Linked DNA regions of Homo sapiens: region 2 is linked to region 1. A link means that fine-mapping ties the variant in region 1 to the expression of a gene that starts in the linked region. Tissue or cell type: whole blood. Region 1 holds a variant in brackets; the other region holds the start of a gene. All regions are shown on one strand. Distances are from middle to middle.

Region 1 (4,383 bases):
GGTTATTTATTTAAAAAAATTAAAGAGTTGTGTTAAACCATTTTTTTGTTGTTGTTGTTTTGAGACAGGGTCTTGTTCTGTCACCCAGGCTGGAGTGCAGTGGCACAATCTTGGCTCACTGCAGCCTCGACCTCCTAGGCGCAAGTGATCTTCCTACCTCGGTCTCCTGAGTAGCTGGGACTATAGGTGCACACCACCATCCCCAGCTAATTGTTTTTAAAAGTATTTTTTGCAGAGATGGAGTCTCACTATGTTGCCCAGGCTGGTCTCAAACTCCTGGGCTCATGCATTCCCCCTATCTCAGCCTCCCAAAGGCTGGGATTGCAGGCATGAGCCACCACGCCCGGCCTAAACCATTTTTATTCTCATCCAATGGTCTGAAGTTGAGAACCGTTGGTCAAAGTTAGGAGTGCTGCCTGTGACACTGGAGTGGATGGAAGTTCACTGGCCCACAAAGGAATCAGATTCGTGACCTTGGCCCTATTACCACTAAACCAACTAGGATATTAGCCCAGAGGCCTGGCAAAGATAGAGCTTGGCCACAACTCCCTTGAGAAAGAGCAGGCTACTCTGCAGATGACCATTTCTAGATCCCCATGGTTTCTGGGCAGTCTGACCCCAGATCCCCAGTGACCAGCTTCCCCTCACCCCAGATGGCTTCCTGTTTGAATGGTCTTCCTACTTCATTAGGTGGGAATAAGTCAAGATAAATGCCACTCAAGCCTATGTCAAGATGGTTAAGAGGAGGGGGCTGGGAACTAGGCACATCTGAATCTGCATCCCAGTGCTGCCGCTTGGTGCTACCTGGTCTTGGGCAAGTTGCTTAACCTCTCTAAACCTTATTTCCTCATGTTTAAAAAGGGTATTGTGATAGCTGCTACTTCATGTGTTTGCGGGGTGATTAAAGGAGAAAAGGCATGTAATGTGTGGAGCACTATGCTTGGAAGACAGTAGGTACTCACTTGGTGGTAGCTCTTCTTCATACATTCATAATATTGTAAATAGTGATAATAAGAAGCCATATTGAAAGTGATTACAACAAGACAGGGCCATGTTGGCCGTGCTCTCAGGACACAACCCCAGTCACTCCTGCCTGCCTTCTCCCAAGGTGACCCAGTTAGACAGTGCCAGCTTTGTTGGGGGCTGCTGAGTGAAGTGAGAATCCTGGCCTGCATCAGGCTGCCTGGGCATGACCCCTGAGCTAGCAGCCATGGGAGGGGAGCAGAAGGGGCAGGGGAGAAAGAGTGTGCTAGTGGGAGGGCTGGGACTTTGAGGAGGAAGTGGGTTTGTGGTAGGGACAGGGTGGGGTAAAGAAGAGGGATGGGCAGAGCTTGAGAGATTTTTAGCAGGAAGGAAGGCAGTTGAGCAAAAAAAGAAAAAAAAAATCCCTTTGTGTCTTATTGGCCTCTTGCTGTCATTTGCTGAAAATGAGGACTCAGATAAACCAATGCAAATCTTCTCGGGTATCACAAAACTCAGGCCTCTCTCTTTTTGTGTCTTTTGTGGGGCATGAGAGAGGTACGGTCTCATCATTGTCCTATCTGCAGCTCCAAAAAAGAAAAAACGGGCTGTGTTTTTCAGATGGTCAGACCATCAGACCAAGATTTAACATGCCTTTTTCAGCCTAAAAGTCTTCTTGCACAACCTGGTGTTATTTCCACAGGCAACTGAAGTAACTCTGCTCTTGAAATCCTGCCCCATGTGACTTTTTCTTGTTTGTTAGCCCAGTAACTAAATAGTCATGACAGGAAGAGAA[T/A]CCCCCTGTTCTGTGAGGCAGGGACCTGGGAGGTCAGCAGCACCCTGTGGACATCTCCAGGGAGGGCACGTTATATCCTGTGTACTTGGGACAGGGGAAATAGAGCTGGTCCCCACTCTCGGGGGCCTAGCTTAATGCTCCGTGTCGTTCTTCAGCCACACAGTTATCCAACCGAGAGGCAGCTCGGTGTAAACAGAATGACTCTAGAGCCATGCCCCATGGAACACTGGGCAGGTTCTCCTATCACAACAGGAAGCAAAGTCACAGGAGAGCAGGATGTCAAAAGCGAGGTTTCTTCAGCACCTGTGGAGACACCAACTTGTCTCCTCACCCTCCCCCATAGTTCCATCTTGGCTAGACCACTCACTTTCCCAGATTCATTTTCAGACCTTCATCCTCAAACTTCAATCAGGTTTTATATGGGAAAGGGGCCGGGGTGAACGATTTCATCCCAGTGGATCTATTTGATTCTGAGTCTCCTCATCTCACCCCTGAAATAGCCTATTGTTTGGAACAATCTGTTGTTTGAAATATCTCAGCTTGGTTGTTCTGTTTCCACCCATTTTGCACGTTCAAAATCAACCCCTAATCCTCATCTCCCAAATCATCTCAGTTTCCTTATTTCCATTAAACAGGACAGCCATTTATCCCATTGTTCAAGTACTACTTTGCCTCACCCATACTAGCTTCATAAATGGTCACCAGCAGATTCTGCTGATTCTTGATTCATCTGAAATGTCTCTTGTCACTGTCACTTCTGTACAATGCAAGCTTTTATCCCTTCCTCATGCCTGGACCTGGGTAACAGCCCCTTACCAGACCTCTCGGACTCACGCCAGCATTATCCACATTAATCTGCCTGGAACACAGGTTGCATCACTCTCTTTGCACAGAAGCCTCATCACTGGCTTCAGTACAAGGTCCAGCCGGGTGCCCAGCCTGGCATTCCCCACATTCCTCTCCATTCTGGCCACCAACTTCCCCAGGCAATCTCCCACCTCCCCAAAAGATACCCACACTCCTGCCATGCTGTTTTAATACCGCACCCTACCTGGTATGGGAGATGGTAACACAGGAAGGGAGAGAGGGAGGGAGGGAGGAAGGGAGGAAGGAAATGCACACTTCCATCTCCCCCGCAAATCTTTCTGTAGTGGTTCTAGTCTTTGCTACTACACCCTCGTCTGAACTCCACCATCAGTGTCTACGCCATTCATTAAAAAACAGACAAGCTACAGATGATGTGCAAGTGTGTTAAAAAAAAAATAAAAAACAAACAAACCACTTTTATTATAAAAATTTTCAGACTTACATAAAAACCCCTATGACCCCATCAACCAGTTTCAATAGCCATCAAGTTTGCCATACGTATTTAATCTATCCTCCCTTTACCTCCCCACCTTTTTGCTTTTTGGCTGAAGTTTTTTTTCTTTCTCTTTTTTTGAGACAGAGTCTCACTGTACCCCAGGCTGGAGTGCAGTGGCACGATCTTGGCTCACTGCAACCTCTGCCTCCTGGGTCCCAGTTCAAGCAATTCTCCTGCCTCAGCCTCCCGAGTAGCTGGGATTACAGGAATGTGCCACCATGCCCAGCTGATTTTTGTATTTTTAGTAGAGATGGGGTTTCACCATGTTGGCCAGGCTGGTCTTGAACTTGCCTGACCTTGTGATCCACCCGCCTCGGCCTCCCAAAATGCTGAGATTACAGGCGTGAGCCACCGCGCCCAGCCTGCTGAAGCATTTTAAAGCAAATTATAGGTGTTATGTCAACTTACTCCCAAATACTTTAGCATGCATCTTAGAAAGGGTATTTTCTTCTATCACCACAATGCCAAAAATTGATAATTCCTTCTTATCTACAGTCTATATTGAAGTTTCCCAAATTGTTCTTTTTAAAAGTTCATTTTCAGAACCAGGTGCGGTGGCTCATGCCTGTAATCCCAGCACTTTGGGAAGCCAAGGCAGGCAGATCACCTGAGGTCAGGAGCTCCAGACCAGCCTGGCCAACATGGCAAAACCCTGTCTCTACTAAAAATACAAAAATTAGCCGGGTATGGTGGCAGGCGCCTGTAATCCCGGGCATGGTGGCTCACACCTGTAATCTCAGCACTTTGGGAGGATTGTACTTGGTTATGTCTGTGAGGTCTCTTTTCAATCTTTTTTTTTTTTTTTTTTGAGATGATTTCGTTCTGTCACCCAGGCTGGAGTGCAGTGGCACAATCACTGCTCACTGCAACCTGAACCTCCCAGGCTCAAGCGATCCTCCCACCTCAGCCTCCTGAGTAGCTGGACTACAGACATGCACCACCATGCCTGGCTAATTTTTGTATTTTTTGTAGATATGGTTTTTTTTGTTTTTTTTTTTTTTGAGATGATTTCGTTCTGTCACCCAGGCTGGAGTGCAGTGGCGTGATCTCGGCTCACTGCAGCCTCCGCCTCCCAGGCTCAAGCAATTCTCCTGCCTCAGCCTCCAGAGTGGCTGGGATTACAGGTGCACACCACCTAGCCCAGCTAATTTTTATATTTTTAGTAGAAACAGGGTTTCTCTATGTTGGCCAGGCTGGTCTTGAACTTCTGACCTGAAGTGATCCACCTGCCTCGGCCTCCCAAAGTGCTGGGATTACAGGCCTG
Region 2 (4,383 bases), 30 kb before region 1:
CTAATATCTCAAAATCTCTGTTCAAAAGCCAGTTTGATTCTAACTGTGAGATGTCATGATTTAGAAGCACTCCAAGAGTCAGGGCAAGGTAGGGTCTCAATAGGGTTCTGGAGCTGTTGTAGGTCAACTGTGATTTGATCTGGGGTTTTCTTTAGACTCCTTGCCAAACTAAGGCTGGATTCACAGGCCCAAAGACAAATGAGAACCAGACTGGCCTTGAAGGGGATGCTGCAGCTTTTTCAAATGAATTGAAAAATCTGAACATCAGATGATAGGGATTTCCGTCAGGTTGCAAATTTTATCTAAATATGTAGGAGCATTATCATCTTGTTCCAACATTTCTATCTCATAAAAAGCAAGGACATTAAAATTATAAAATTAAGCATGAGTAATACACAAAGAATAAACTAGAACACCAGGAAATAACATCGAAAATCCTCTAAACCTAGTGGGAAAAGTGAGCCAAAAAGAGTGCCAAGTTCTCCTGCAAGGCATTAGGCACGGATACCAATTTGAATTCCTGTACAAACCTACAAAGTCCCTGGAATCACTGCCTGGCAAACTAAGTTCCCATTCGACTGCAAAGCAACACTACCTACTCCTTCGTATTTCCAAATAGACCATGTGTATCGGCTCAGACAACAGAATATTTTAAATCTATTCCTTGAGCTAAAGGATACCATTTAAAGCTAACGATCCTGTGAATAAGATACTACACTGGTCAAATTTTAGGCTTTTTCTTTATAAATACATCCAAAGGCCAGCTAACTCTTAACCGTTGTTTGCATTCGGATTCCTGGTCTGATGACTCTTAGGGGCAATCAATGGGAAGTGAAGTTGAGAAGAAGGTGGGTGCAGACGGCTTTATAACTGTAAAAGTAAAGGACTAGCTAAAAGTGGCCGAACAGAGGAGCTGACACTCGGGAAAGTGAAGGTCGGGGAAGGTTCGTGCGGTTGTTAAAGCAAGACCGGGAAAGGGCAAACCTGGAAGAGGAGTGAAGGACTCTACTTCACGGGACGCAAGATAGGAAGTGCAGGTTAAGCAAGCGCGCAGGTGGGGAAGGGTGTTGGCCTCCCCTAGGATGGAAAGAGTTCAGGTGGGAATTAGAAGGAAACAGCCAAGACTTCACAGAAAACCTGTTTGAATAAGGAGGAGGGCGTGAGGTGACGCCAAGGCATTGTGGGGAACTCGGCTCACACACTACCAGTCCCAACTGAGCAGGAGAAACCCAGCAGGAAATGGCTCTGCTGGCGCAGAGGCAAGCGTTGCCAGCCCCTGCGCTCGCTGCTGGGGCTGCGCCCTCGGAGGTTACCTTTGAGCTGGGGCAGCGGGTGCAGCTCTGCCTGGCTGCCCTGGCTGCGAAACTGCGACGAGCCCTGGGAGCGCTTCTGCCTCTGCGCCTTGCGGACCGATTTCCGGGTGAAGCCGTCCACTTTCTCCGAGGCCGAGATGGCGGCGCTGGCAGCCCCCGCCGGCGGCGACGACGACGACATCTCCGCGGCCCTGACGCTTGGCAGCTCCGGCTGCTGCTTGCAAGGCACGGGCAGCGGCGGAGACGGCAGGAGGAGGCGGGGGAGAGGCGCGGGGTGCTCGCGCCCCTGCGCCCCGGCCCCACGGCCCTCCGGCCCCGGGACGCCGCCGAGCTTCTCCTCGCCGCCCGCCAACGCCTCACGGCCACATCTCAGCGCTGGAGGTTCCTGGTCCCCGGCGCGCGGCGAGCTCCCGGGGCTGACGGAGGGAAGGGCGGGGGCGGAGGGGGGTGAAGAAGTTGTTGACTCTGGGCGCGCAGAGCGGGTGGAAGAGAGCCCGAAGTTTAGACAACTGAGGCGGGGGCACGGGGGTGCGGGTGCCGAGCGCGCCTCTCGTCGCTTCTGCCCCCGTCGCCAGCCAGCCGGCCGGCCAGCACCTCAGCGGCCGCTGCCAGCGCAGCCCGCCCTGCCTGGAGCCTCCTCTCAGGGCGCTGCCATCGCGGGTCCCCTCGGAGCCACTGCCGCGGTGCCCGCTCTTCCCGGTCAACGCCGGCCCCTCATCGCCCGGGGCGCTGCCCCGTAGCCCCGGCCCTCTGCGTGCACACACTCGCTCCTTGCCGCGCTGGGCGGCCCGAACCCCCTCCCCCACGCGCCCGTCGGCCGCCCACGGAGAACCCCAGGCGAGCGACCGCTACAACTTGAGAAGGTGGTTGGTACAGGCGACTGGGGAGTGTGTGCGCGTGTGCGCGCGCCAGGGCGCGCGGCCCGGGGAGGGGCCTCGCAAGGGGTGGGAAGGAGGAGTTTGACTGACAACTTCCGCGGGGTCCCGCCCGCCTCTTGGTGCGGCGGCGGGGGAGGGGGCGGGAAAGCATGCCAGCCCTCTTAGCCAATCACACGGCTAAGCGGCAGCGACGGCGTGAGGTGCGGCCTCTTGAGGCAGAGGAGTGGGGCGGGCTGTGTGACGGGCTTCGGCCACAGCCAATCGTAAGTGAAGACGGCGAGCGGGGTGCCCCTGCGTCAGAACAAATGCGGCAAATCGCTTGGGAGGGAGGGGAAGCGCTCCTCCACCAGCGGGCATTTTTGCGCTCACGCGCGACTGCTCCAGGCTGTCATTGCTCTCCTGACCGTCTACGAGAAGACTGGGAAACTTGAGAGGGTGCGTTCAGAGAGCAAAATAGAGCGCCCCTTCCCTTCCCTCACCTCTCTGCTGGCCAATGAAGAACTGAAGCGATTGGTGGGGCGCCGGAGGGCTGGGGCGCGAAAGAGCGCCAGGTGTTACACCACTGAAAGGGGGCGCAGCAGAGGTCAGGTGGCGAGCAAGCAGTGTGATTGACGGGCGAGGGGCCCGGGGAAGGCGAGAAGGTGAGCTCGTCCAATCGTTGCGAGGTCTGGACACCTGGGCGGGTCTTGGCGCCTTACTGGCCCCAAACCGCAAAATTGGTAGTTGCGGAATAAATTTGTAGCTCTTGGGAGGTTCGGACTCCGCAACTCCAGAGAGCTACTCTCGCGTGGGGTTTGGGCAGTCTAGCATCTGCTGCTTCAAAGAGTTCTGCAAGTCCACGCCCTCTAAAAAGAGATTTCTCATTCCCAATTTAGTATCCTGCTAATTTTCACCCCTCCTTGAGCCAAAGGCCCTCAACTACTCCAACGAGAAGAGTACAAATTCATTGGTCAGTGGTGTGTGGATATGGAGGCTTGCCATGTACTCTTACCGGAATCTCTTTCTTGGAGATTCCGTCTAGATTTTGAATTTCTTAAGGACGAGGACTGGTCATCTTAGTTTTTCGTGCAGTGCTTTCCATACGGTGGCCGTTAATAATTATTAATCTGAACAGTCAGCCTCCCTTTGCGCCAATGGACCCAAATCTGTAATCCCCTCCCTCGAGCTCCAGACCTTTTCCTTTCAACATAATAAAAGTAATTGTCGTATATTTAAACGAAGCCACCTGATGCATATGTACAGAAGATTCCAAATTTGGCAGGAAGTTGAATTCTAGACCTAGAACCAAACATACTATCCTCAAAACATTTCCTCCTTCAGATTTGCTGGGCGGTGAAATTGTACATAATCCTCCCAGTCAAGGAGGTTCAAACCTCAGCAGCGTTTCTGACACTTTTCGCTTTCTCACATAGTCAAGCTCCAGATCATGTTAAATCTACTTTCACAATTGGCGTTTCTCCCAATGTGTACAAAGACCGCCAAACGTAGTTCACGGCTTTCAAACTCACTGCCACATCAATCTTTTAAGATCACTTTTATCTTACCTGCGTGTTTGAGGAACCACCCAATACCTGCAGAATAGAGTCCAAATTCAAGACTCTCTGCGATCTGACTCCTGTCTTTCCAAGTGTAAATTCCTACATGTGCCCACAAAAACTCTTTTTAGTTCAGGCACATCATTCCACATACTGATCCCCTAAAAGAAGTTATGCATCCTCAACACTTAGTCTTTGCTGTTCCAACATCTTGAAATAATCCACTTTTTTTTTTCTTTTTTGAGACGGAGTCTTGCTCTGTCACCCAGGCTGGAGTGCAATGGTGGCACAATCTCGGCTCACTGCATGCTCCGCCTCCCGGGTTCAAGCGATTCTCCTGCCTCAGCCTCCCGAGTAGCTGGGATTACAGGCACCTGCCACCACGCCCGGCTAATTTTTTGTATTTTTAGTAGCGACGGGGTTTCACCATGTTGCCCAGGCTTGTCTCGAACTCCTGACCTCGTGATTCGGCCACCTCCGCCTCCCAAAGCGCTGGGATTACAGGCGTGAGCCACCGCGCCCGGCCCATTTTTTTTTCATCTTTTTGAAATTTCTTTTCTTCAAACCCCCTATCTTTTATGAAGCTTGACAATCCAGCCAGAAGTGATGCCTCCCTTCTTTGTATTCCTATTGCATTTAGTGTCCACACCACTCACA

Evidence for each region. PIP is the estimated chance that this variant, and not a neighbour inherited with it, causes the effect.
Region 2: it holds the start of PPP2R5A, and the variant in region 1 is fine-mapped to the expression of PPP2R5A in whole blood (TOPMed, PIP 0.98).

Annotation. Positions count from the first base shown.
Region 1 is chr1:212,253,436-212,257,818 of GRCh38, reverse strand. All of the region lies in intron 1 of LINC02608 (long intergenic non-protein coding RNA 2608), which reads left to right. Among named protein-coding and RNA genes, the nearest start is that of LINC02608, 29 kb to the left of the region's middle. RefSeq lists enhancers at 1,348-1,527, 1,141-1,642. The variant T/A (reference allele first, on the strand shown) is at 1,757.
Region 2 is chr1:212,283,222-212,287,604 of GRCh38, reverse strand. PPP2R5A (protein phosphatase 2 regulatory subunit B'alpha) reads right to left here and starts at 2,195. Exons shown (of 13, transcript NM_006243.4): 1 at 1,314-2,195. The coding sequence starts at 1,494. LINC02608 (long intergenic non-protein coding RNA 2608) reads left to right here and starts at 2,584. Exons shown (of 4, transcript NR_125984.1): 1 at 2,584-2,626. RefSeq lists a silencer at 1,463-2,432 and an enhancer at 2,603-2,682.